Linked DNA regions of Homo sapiens: region 2 is linked to region 1. A link means that fine-mapping ties the variant in region 1 to the expression of a gene that starts in the linked region. Tissue or cell type: lung. Region 1 holds a variant in brackets; the other region holds the start of a gene. All regions are shown on one strand. Distances are from middle to middle. Region 1 has its middle 19 kb from the start of LINC02091. Region 2 holds the start of DOC2B (double C2 domain beta).

Region 1 (5,364 bases):
GATGAGCCCCCACACTCAGCCCCCACCAGAACCCCATGACTGGGCCAGACCCAGTCCCTGCAGCCCCAGGGTGGATTCCAAATGCATTTCCTAGAAGGCATTCATTAAGACGACGTCATCGTGGAAGTGTCAGCTTCAGAGCTGAGGTGGGCTGCAGATCCCTCACGGGAGCCTGCGGCTGCCTTGGAGTCAAGGGTTCTTTGTGGGCTGGTCTGGGAACCAAGAAATCCTTTCTTTATGAAACTGCTTTCTTAGTCCCAAGCAACCAACTTACAAGTTAGCTTTCAGAACTGAGCCTTTCCTGGTAGAAGGTGGAAGGTGTTCTGTGACATCCGTAAAAATCAGGGCATACGGAAGGGACTGGATTTGTCCCAAATACCAGATAACCCAAGTGGTTCCTAGAAGAGGCCGCAAGTGGAGAGCTCATGAACTTTGGACCCTGGTTTCAAATCCCAGATCTGCTACTTAGTGCCTGAAAGTATGGGTGCTTCTCTGTGCCTCTGTTTCTCATCTGTGAAATGGGGATAACACTTCCGTCCCAGGATGACTGGAAATTTAAAACATGAGGGCCCCAGTACAGCTCCCACCACCGTGACCAGTATGTCAACAGCTACCAGCTGTTTCTCCCGTAGAATTCAGTGAGGCACGTGCCTCAGGAGTGGTCAAGATGCCATAAGAACGTGAGAAGGGTGGCAGCCTGGTACCCGGGGCACAGTAAACCTTCATGCTTCTCCCTTTGGGGCTTTGGAATAATGGTGCTTATCCACATTCATTCCTCTGTCGAGCATTAATCGGGCAGATGCTGGTGCAGGTGCAGTGTTCTAGGCCCTGGGTTTGGTAGTGGACAAAACGGACATGGCCCCGTCCTCCTGCTGCATCTGAACCACCCAAGGGACTTGTTAGAACACAGAACACACTAATCCTACCTCGGAGTTTCTGATTCAGAGGTCTGCCGTGGGGCTGACAATGCATATTTCAGTTCCCAGGTGATGCCGAGGTTCCCATTGGAACCAGCTCACCTGTGACTCCTGGGGCTGACATCCCTAAACCCGCACCAGCTGGGGCAAAAGATACACGGACACTGGCAGACGACCGAGGGGCAGGGGATGCGGATCAGGCTGGCAGAGAAAACGCAGCCCTCACAGCCCTGCTGCCGCGTCCCGCCCCCGACAGATGCACGGCTCCGCGCTGTTGCTCAGCCCTGGCGCACAGGCCCAGCGGGTTAGAGGATTTCCACCCCAAACAGCGGGGGCCGGCATCTTTCCCACATGAGAAAACGCCTGCTTTCTGCTGGTACCTGGAGGAAAGGAGCATCTTATCGCGAGACCATGGAGCGGGGTTGGAACGACATGCCTGGCTCAGGTCCCCGCTCACTCCACTGACCTTGTTCTCTTCGCCCAATCACGTTTCCCCACCACCTTCTACCTTCCTCGAGCTGCCGTAAGAAACACTCGCCCAATCATGTTTCCCCATCGAGGTGCCATAAGAAACACTCGCCCAATCACGTTTCCTCATCGAGCTTCCGTAGGAAATATTCGTCTAATCACGTTTCCCCATGGAGCTGCCGTAAGAAACACTCACCCAATCACGTTTCCCCATCGAGGTGCTGTAAGAAACACTCGCCCAATCACGTTTCCCCATGGAGCTGCCGTAAGAAACACTCACCCAATCACGTTTCCCCATCGAGCTGCCGTAAGAAACACTCGCCCAATCATGTTTCCCCATCAAGGTGCCGTAAGAAACACTCGCCCAATCACGTTTCCCCATTGAGGTGCCATAAGAAACACTCGCCCAATCACGTTTCCCCATCGAGCTGCCATAAGAAACACTCACCCAATCACGTTTCCCCATCGAGCTGCCGTAAGAAACACTCGCCCAATCATGTTTCCCCATCGAGGTGCCGTGAGAAACACTCGCCCAATCACGTTTCCTCATCGAGCTGCCGTAGGAAACATTCGTCCAATCACGTTTCCCCATCGAGGTGCCGTAAGAAACACTCACCCAATCACGTTTCCCCATCGAGGTGCCATAAGAAACACTCGCCCAATCACGTTTCCCCATCGAGCTGCCGTAGGAAACATTCGTCCAATAACGTTTCCCCGCCACCTTCTACCTTCCTCCAGCTGCCGTAAGAAACACTCACCCAATCACGTTTCCCCATCGAGCTGCCTGCCGTAAGAAACACTCGGG[T/C]TCTGTGGTGCCTTCAGGTGTTCACTTCTTCATGGAGCTTCCGTGTGACGTAACACATGCTAAATACATGCTCAGACTTTTCTCTGGTTAATCTGCCCCCCCCTTTTTTGTATTTTTTTTTTTAACAGGGGGCCCAGCCAATGAGCCTGAGGTGGCTGTAAGGAAAAAGCTCAGTTTCCTCCCCTATGATTGGTTCCCCAGCAGGAAGGAGGCTGAGGCTGGATGGGGAACTGGCCTGCCTGCAGCCTCCACCCCAGGCCACCCTGCCCTGCACTCCGCCCATGGGGGAGAGAAGCCTCCTACATAAGGTGACCAGCTGGAGGGTCCAGCTGTTGGAGGTACTAGGCAGAAGGGGCCCTCGCCAGGGGAGATGGACGGCACACAGACGCACACACACGTGTGCATACACTAGTATGTACAAACACAGAAAGGTTCACCTGTTTACAGAATACGTAGGAGGCCAGGTGCAATGGCTCATGCCTGTAATCCCAGGACTTTGGGAGGCCAAGGCAGGAGTATCACCTGAGCCCAGGAGTTCGAGACCAGCCTGGGCAATATGGAGAGATGCCATCTCCACAAAAATTAAAAAAAAAAAAAAATAGCCAGACGTGGTGGTGCATGCCTGTAGTACCAGCTACACAGGAGGCTGAGAAGGGAGGATCACTTGAGCCCAAGAGTTTGAGGCTGCACTGAGCTGTGACTGTGCCACTGCACTCCAGCCTGATTGACAGAGCAAGACCCTGTCTCAAATATATGTGGAGGACCAGTGCCTTTAAATTGCTCATCCAAGTGCCAGCAAATGCTCTTCTGCACAGGGGAGGGATGAGACCAAAGGAAAACCTGGCACTGGCATTGCCCGGAGTATGTGAGGAGAAGGACCTCGCCAGGCCATGTGTGAAGAGCATTGGCAGAGCCCCTGCCATGGCTAAGTCCTGGTGTCCCCTGCAAAGCAGGGCCTTGATGCTCCAGTTTCCTGTCCCTTTCCTTTCCTCTGCAAACGGTCAGGGCTCTGACCCGCAGCGCCCGGCCCCACCCCGGGGCTGTCTTGTGCAGAAAGCAAAGCAGAGTGTGCCTCTCCTCACCCCACAGTACCGAGGAGAGCAGGCAGGCAGGAGGAGGAGGAGGCAGGAGCTCAGAGATCCTTAGGAGCCCCCGACGAGGTGCCCCCAGTCTCCACCAAGACGGCCGAAGCTCTGAGCCTTTGATGCAGACCTCAGGATGTCTGCAGCTTCTTCAGTGCCAATTACCAGAAAATAATTCAGCGTGCTCACCCCCTGCCTCTCAGCGGCTGCTCTTTGGAGACATTTTAAGTCTGACTGTACCTGCTGAGCAGCTGACAAATGAAGCTTCTCCCTCCCTGCTCCCTCCTTCCCGACTGCCATCGCCTCCACCTTTGCCCAGGCTCTTTCATGGGGAAAAGGGAACCAAAAGCTGGGCCCTGTCATCCCTGCCCCCACAGCAGGGGCCTGCCCAGATCAGTCGCTGCACCTTCTTCCCAGGCTCTGCTTCCAGACGTGGCATGGCAAGGCTGGGTTCCCTAGAGCCCGGCTCCTGAAGGCAGAAGTCAAGGCTTATTCACCTTTGGGTCCCTAGTTAGCTGTCAAGAAATATTGCTGGATCAATGGATGCATGGATGCATGGGTAGATGGAGGGGTAGGGGATGGGTCAGTGGGTGGTGGAGGGGTGAGGATGGTTGGGGGATGGGTGGATGGCAGGTGAGTGAGGAGATGGATGGAGGTCTGGATGAGTGAGGGATGGGTGAGGAGATGGATGGGTGAGTGGGTGGAGGAGTGGGGGATGGGTAGGGCGATAGTTGAGTGGGGAATGGGTGGGGGAAGGATGGGTGGGGGAGGGGTTAACGGATGGCTGGGTGGGGGAAGGGTGAGTGGGGGCATAGGGGGTAGTTGGATGGATGATGATTGGGTGGGGGATGGTGGGGGTGGGTGGGTGGAGGACAGATGGGAGGATGGATGATGGACAGACTGATGGAGCATTGGACAGATGGATGGAGAGACAGGTGCATAGATATTCTGCATGGACCAATGTGCTGAAGGACATCTGAGAGGATGGACAGATGAACAGAGGATGGACCAGTGTCCTGATGGGAAGAAGGATGTGTGGATGGATGGAAACACTCCAGGCCCAGGGCCTGTGTGCTCTGCATCCCTAGGGAGGGGCCAGCAGATCAGGAGCCCCAACCTACACTTCCCAGAAGCTGTGGGTCCTCGGCCAGGAGCACTCAGTTCACAGCAGCCACAGGAATCCTGGGCAGAGCAGCTCTTGAGCCCTGGTCTCTGTGCCTCAGCCTGGTCTGCGTACCTCAGAGGGCCCTTGTGTGGAGCCCTGGTCTGTGTGCCTCAGAGGCCCTCGTGGGGAGCCCTGGTCTGTGTGCCCCAGCCCGCCTCAGTGACCCCCAACAAATTCCCCCCCTATCAAAATCACTATAGCTGTAGTCCCAGCTACTTGGGAGGCTGAGGCAGGAGGATTGCTTGAGCACAGAAGTTGGAGGCTGTAGTGAGCCATGATCTCGCCACTGCACTCAGCCTGGGTAACAAAACAAGACCCTATTCAAAAACAGTAAATAAATGAAAGAAAACCCACTGCCACATTCCTTATGCTAATAAGGCTAGCCAGCCCTTAATGTGTGTGCAGATGAGATCTTACTCAAACTCATTCACACAGAAGTACAGGCATGTGTCACCTAACAACCAGGATACGACAGGGATACTTCCAAGAGATGTGTTGTCAGGCAATTTCATCATTGTGCAGACATCATAGAGAGCACGGACGTAAATCTAAGTGGCAGAACCTACAGCACACCTAGGCTATGTGGGAGAGCCTGGGCTCCTGGGCTACAAACCTGTGCAGCATGTAGCAACTGCGACACCGTGGAATTATGTGTGTAGCTAATCATAGAAAGGGTACAGTAAAAATACGGTATAAAAGATGTTTTAAAATGACACAGGTGTATAGAGCACTTCCCGTGAATGGAGCTTGCGGGACTGGAGTCGCTGTGGGAGAGTCAGTGTGTGGTGAGTGTGAGGGCCCAGGGCATTACTGTCCACTCGTATGTGACTGGCAGTGTAATAGGTGTGTTCACACCAGCATCACCACAAACGAGTGATAACGTGTTGCACTGTGACATTACACGCCGCAACCTCACTAGGCAACGGG
Region 2 (5,364 bases), 24 kb after region 1:
AGGAAGGTTTGCACCACGACGGTTTGCACCAGGAAGATTTGCAATGGGACGGTTTGCACCAGGAAGGCAGGGGCAACAGAATCACAATTCCCTGAGTGCCAGTTGCACACTGGGCACTGTGCTAAGCACTGTATACCCATCCTCACCTTTAACTCACACAACGTTGTTCTTATTCTCCCCCATTGCAGATGAGACCCAGGGCCTAAGTTAAACAACTTGCCCAAAGTCCGGTACGCTTAGGAGGAGGCACACCTGACTTTTGACTCTACGTCTGCCTACTCCCTGACCTATGCTCTTTCTAGAAAGTGGACACTTGCCCAGATAACACCACTTCTATCCACTTCTATCCCTCGGGGAGGCCCTACCCCATTTCAGCTGGGCTCAGAGCTGGGCAAATTCAGACCTAGAGTGGATTTCAACTCTGCCACCTGCCAAAGGGTAGACCCCAACATGCCATGTGTTTCTCCAGTGGGCATCCTTGGGTTCCCTGGCTCCATGCTTAGGAGGCTGGGCCCTCCACCTGACTTCTTCAAAGCCCTCCCCAAGAGCCAGCTCCTGCAGAGCCAAGAGCCATGAGCCGATCCTCCAAAAACCAGACCCATAGGACAAGAGGCCAGGAGAGAGCGGCCAGCTCTCGGTGAACACAGGTACAGGGCCTTGGCAGGCTCAGCAGTCAGGACGTCCAGGTCTCATCTCCAGTCTGCCTCTTGCTAGTCACTTGACCTCCCGCAGCCTCAGTTTCCCCATCTGTAAGATGATGACGACACCCTCCAGCTCCTTAGTAAAGGAATGATAAAATGACAGTTCAGCGTCTGTATTTTAATACCTGCGTCATTATGTAATCATTTTGTGATGCAGCCACCTCTGGCACAGAAAAAGTCACCCTGTGCCTATTTAAGGATTAATCCCCTTAAGCATTCCTGGAAATGAGAACCCCTCTGTGCCAGGCTGCCCTTCCAGGCTCTTCTGTCCTTTCCTTGGCCTTTGGCTCTTGGAAGGCTGAATATTTCTCCCACCAGGACCTCAGACTATCTTTAGGGAACCCCGGCTGGTTCATTCCCACTGTAACCCCTGAGGCTCTTGGCCTCCTCCCGTCCTCCTCTTCCTCCTCCTTTTTTTCCCTCCTTCCCCTCCTCCTCAGTTTGGGCTTCCCCTGTCCAAGAAGCCTCAGGATGAGCTTTGGGAACGAGGTTTTACCTGTGTTTCCAACTCTGCTCTGAGCCCCTGAGCTCTGTAGTGGAGGGGAGGAAAGGGAGAAGGGAGGGAAAGTGGAAGCATCGAACAGTCAGGACACTGGGCTCTCATCGCAGCTCTGCCGCCAGCCAGCAGTCACCCTGGACACATCCTTGTGCCTGAGCGCTAATTTCCTCCCCTGTGAAATGGGAACAGCAGGCCCTGCCTACATCGTGGGGTGGTTTAAGGAATCAATGAGATGACAGCTGTGAATGTTCTTGGCGCAGTACAACATATGCCATGTGTTTCTCCAGTGTTTTCAAAGGCCGGTAGTGCCCGCCACCACCCAGTTCAGAACTCACCACAAAACATGAATTTCTCATCACTTCTCACCATGAGTCTTGTCTTTCCAAAGGAAGGGAGAAGGGAAAGCCAGCTGAGCACCTCTTACCTGTCTGTGCTGGATGGGGCCTTGCCACAAGGCTGTGCAGTTGGAAATAGCCTCACTTCATAGATGAGGAAACCGAGGCTCAAAGAGGTCAAATAGCCTGCCAGAACTGTGCAGCTGGAAGCCACAGGCCAAGGCTTTGCCTCTCTTTCCTCTGCTCCCCATCACTCTGCAGGGGTTATGGTGGGGGAACAAGAGAGGCTTGGAGCCCCTCATTCAGATGCACCAAAGGCACCCACTAAGAAGCTAAGTGTCTTACACATCAGTGGAAACCAGAGGGTAAACAGGATTCCATCCATGCCCAGGGCTTTCCGGGAACACACCTGTCCAAGCAGCAGCAGTTCCCAACAGAGCTCTGGTCCCGGAAAGCCGGACAGCCAGGGCTGGGCCCTCTGGGATTTGTTTAGTGATCTGACCGTGTGGGAGGCCTAGAGTAGGAGTGGGGGTGGGGGGAGCGTGCCGCCCAGCCTTATTGCATCACTCACCGCCCAGGCCCTGCCCTCACTCCCTCCTGACCAGGCCCTGTGCAGGTTCTCAGCCACCCTGCCCCGGGGGGTCCTTCAGACTGTACTCACTGACCAAGTGAGGGACTGACCCGAGGTTAGAGTGCTGTGTTGTATGTGACCTGAGAATATGTGTGCACAGACTGAGCCCCGGTGTCCTTGTGCAGTTGAGCGTGTACATGTCCTGCCCGTGTGTAGGCAACCTGTCCCTACATGCTAGGAGTGTGACTCCACGTCCTGCTAGAGGGGGAGGAGAGAAGGAGTTGTGCCCAGGGTCCCCTGATCACTTCTATGGGCTCATGTTTGTGCATCTTGTTAGGGGTGCTTGGGGGTAGGGAAGCCTGTGCCCTGGGTGCCCTTGATCACCTGTGTGTGTGCTCCATCAGGTGTGCGCGCCTGTGCATTGGGGGTGTACTGTGTCACAGCTTCCTAAAACAACCATGTGCGCATGCAGACGTTTGCGTGTGTGACCTACGGTGTGAGCGAGCGGATGCTTCCACCACGTGTCTCTGCACACGCATGTGTGCACTTGCACACCTGCGTGTGTCCCGAGAGAGCGAGCGGAGCCCAGCGTGGGCTGGCACGCGCGGGAACGTGTGGGTGCGCGTCCTGCGGGTCCCTGCCGGGTTGACTCCCAGCTTGTGCCGCGGGCGTGCATGAGCGGAAGGCGCCCGGCGGCCCTGCCTGGCCGCGAGTGTGCGCGCGCGGGGTCCCGGGCCGGCGTGCACGCCGGTGTGAGTGCGAGTGCGAGTGAGTGTGGCGCCGCGCGGCTCCCTCCGCTCCGCGCCGCCCGCGCAGCCCGCACACTCACCCTGCTTGGTTGCTGCCGGGTGACGCGGGCTGGGCCCGCCCCCTGCCTGCCGGCCTCTGGCACTCGCTCGCGCCGTCCGCAGCGGAGCGGGCAGCGGCCAAGTCAGGGCCGTCCGGGGGCGCGGCCGGCGATGCCCGCAGCCCCCGCCGCGCCCCGCCGGGCCTGCTGAGCCGCCCCCGGGCCGGGGTCGCGCCGGGCCGGGCCGCGCCCGGGGCGGGGCGGCGCTGCCTGCATGACCCTCCGGCGGCGCGGGGAGAAGGCGACCATCAGCATCCAGGAGCATATGGCCATCGACGTGTGCCCCGGCCCCATCCGTCCCATCAAGCAGATCTCCGACTACTTCCCCCGCTTCCCGCGGGGCCTGCCCCCGGACGCCGGGCCCCGAGCCGCTGCACCCCCGGACGCCCCCGCGCGCCCGGCTGTGGCCGGTGCCGGCCGCCGCAGCCCCTCCGACGGCGCCCGCGAGGACGACGAGGATGTGGACCAGCTCTTCGGAGCCTACGGCTCCAGCCCGGGCCCCAGCCCGGGTCCCAGCCCCGCGCGGCCGCCAGCCAAGCCGCCGGAGGACGAGCCGGACGCCGACGGCTACGAGTCGGACGACTGCAGTAAGTTTCCCACGCGCCGACTTCGCGCCCCCTCCCCTGGCTCGGGCTCGGCCCCCCCACGGCCTCGCGGCTTCCCTCCGCCGGTCCCCCTCGCGCGCTCGCGCTCTGCCTCGGTTCACAACCCCGCCGCGGGCTTGCGGGCCCCTGGCGCACTCGGTGCGCTCTCCGCGCCCTGCCCACCGGCCTCGAGCCCTCCCCCGACCCAGGCCGGACAGGAGGGAAGTTCGGGGGCACCCCCTGGGGGTGTCCCATTTCCGGGGCCGGGTTCCTCGGAGCCGGCGCCGCGCCCCCTCCCTGCCAGCCCGCCCTCCCGGAGCTCCGGCGCGGGCGGCTGCTTTTGTTCCCGGGAAGGGCGGAGCTGCGTCCCGGGGAGACACCAGTTGCTGCCGGCCGCGCGGTCGCTCCCCGCTCGCCAGCCGCTCCGGGAGGGCCTCGCGGCCGAGGGTCGGGGCTGGGGCGAGCTGGGGAGGGGCCCGAGGCTGGGAGCGGCCCGGCCTCCCGCGTGGTCCCGGCGGCCCGCAGAGCGCAGCTGCTTTGCTGGCGCGCGAGCAGAGGACCAGGAGGACCGCGGGGCCGCTTGTCCTTTGGAAAAACCTTGGCGTTTCCTCCTCCGGTGTCCATGGACCCCGCCGCAGCCCTCGCCAGGGCCGCGCACCTTCGCCCACCTGTTACGCCCGCGGCCCCCGGGCAGAGAGGGCCCCCCAGCCCGCTCCCCCTCCTCCCGGACTGAGCCCTGAGCCCCCGGGAGCAGGCAAGCGCCGGAGTCCCGGGACCGAGGCCCGGCCGGTGGGCGCTCCTGGCGCCTTTTCCCGTCCCCGAGGGTGCCTGTCCGGCCCGAGCCGGGACTGGCTGGGAAACCGAGGCCGGAAGAGGTCGCAGTCCAGTGAGGAGTCGGTTTGCGCGGGGTGGGGATGGCATGTGAGAACCCCCTCCTAGCTCAGCTGTGGCTCCAGACTTGTCACTGAGACCTGGAAAACCAGCGTCTCGTCAAACCCCAGCCCTTCCCGGGATGTGGCCCTTCTCCAGGGCTGGTGCTGCCCCTCCCCTGCGCAGCAGGGATGTCTGCGCCTGGCCTGGGCACTCACCAGGGCCTGTGGGCTGCGGGCCTGGAGTTTCCCAAGCATCAAATGTGCCACCAGAAGCTGAAGGTAGGGATTACCAGTGCCCCCGGGGCACAGACCCCCCATCGCCCCACCTGGGGAGGCCCATCAGCAGTGGCCGGTTAGAGCAGGGCCCCTGTAGGGGAAACTGCCTGCTTTGCACTTTCTAGAGGCCTGGACCACGGCCCTCGGGCCAGCGCCTGGCACATGAAGGCCCTGCCCTGGGGCGTGGGGGCTGGGGAGCAGTCTTGTCCCTCCACTTTCCTGCCAGCTTGGGGAGATTGGGTCGGAAGAGTTTTTTGCCCTCAGGGCTGTGCCCTAGATCCACCCCCCCTCCCCTCTGCCCCTGGCACCCTGTGCGAAGCTCACCCTGGACTTGGTGATCCCCTGGGTGGGCCCTGAGTGGGACCCAAGTAACTGCTTTGGCTGCCCTGAATCCAAAGCCTCCCCCAGAAGAACGGATGGGAAAGTTGTTCCCATTTCTGGCATCTCTGCTGCTGCACCAAGGAAGTAAGAGGGGAGGGCAGAGCTTCAGGCCACCCTCCTGGTGCCACAGAGGGCCCTCTGCATGGCGAATGGCCAAGAGGCTTTTTCTTTTTCTTTTTTTTGCTGTCTCTGAACCCACAAAGCAAGGAGGGGACCAGGAAGCTAGAAACTCAGGCCAGCCAGCCCCATCTCCAATCCATCAGCTCAGCAGCCCTTCAGGGAGCATGTCCTGGCAGCA

What was found. PIP is the estimated chance that this variant, and not a neighbour inherited with it, causes the effect.
Region 2: DOC2B starts here. The variant in region 1 is fine-mapped to the expression of DOC2B in lung (TOPMed, PIP above 0.99). The same link has a PIP of 0.9 or more in atrial appendage and esophagus mucosa.

What each region holds. Positions count from the first base shown.
Region 1 is chr17:203,153-208,516 of GRCh38, reverse strand. No RefSeq gene overlaps it. Among named protein-coding and RNA genes, the nearest start is that of LINC02091, 19 kb to the right of the region's middle. The variant T/C (reference allele first, on the strand shown) is at 2,191.
Region 2 is chr17:179,283-184,646 of GRCh38, reverse strand. DOC2B (double C2 domain beta) reads left to right here and starts at 2,997. Exons shown (of 9, transcript NM_003585.5): 1 at 2,997-3,540. The coding sequence starts at 3,168. It overlaps LINC02091 (long intergenic non-protein coding RNA 2091), which reads left to right. Exons shown (of 2, transcript NR_104420.1): 2 at 189-823. RefSeq lists enhancers at 2,112-2,613, 4,075-4,641.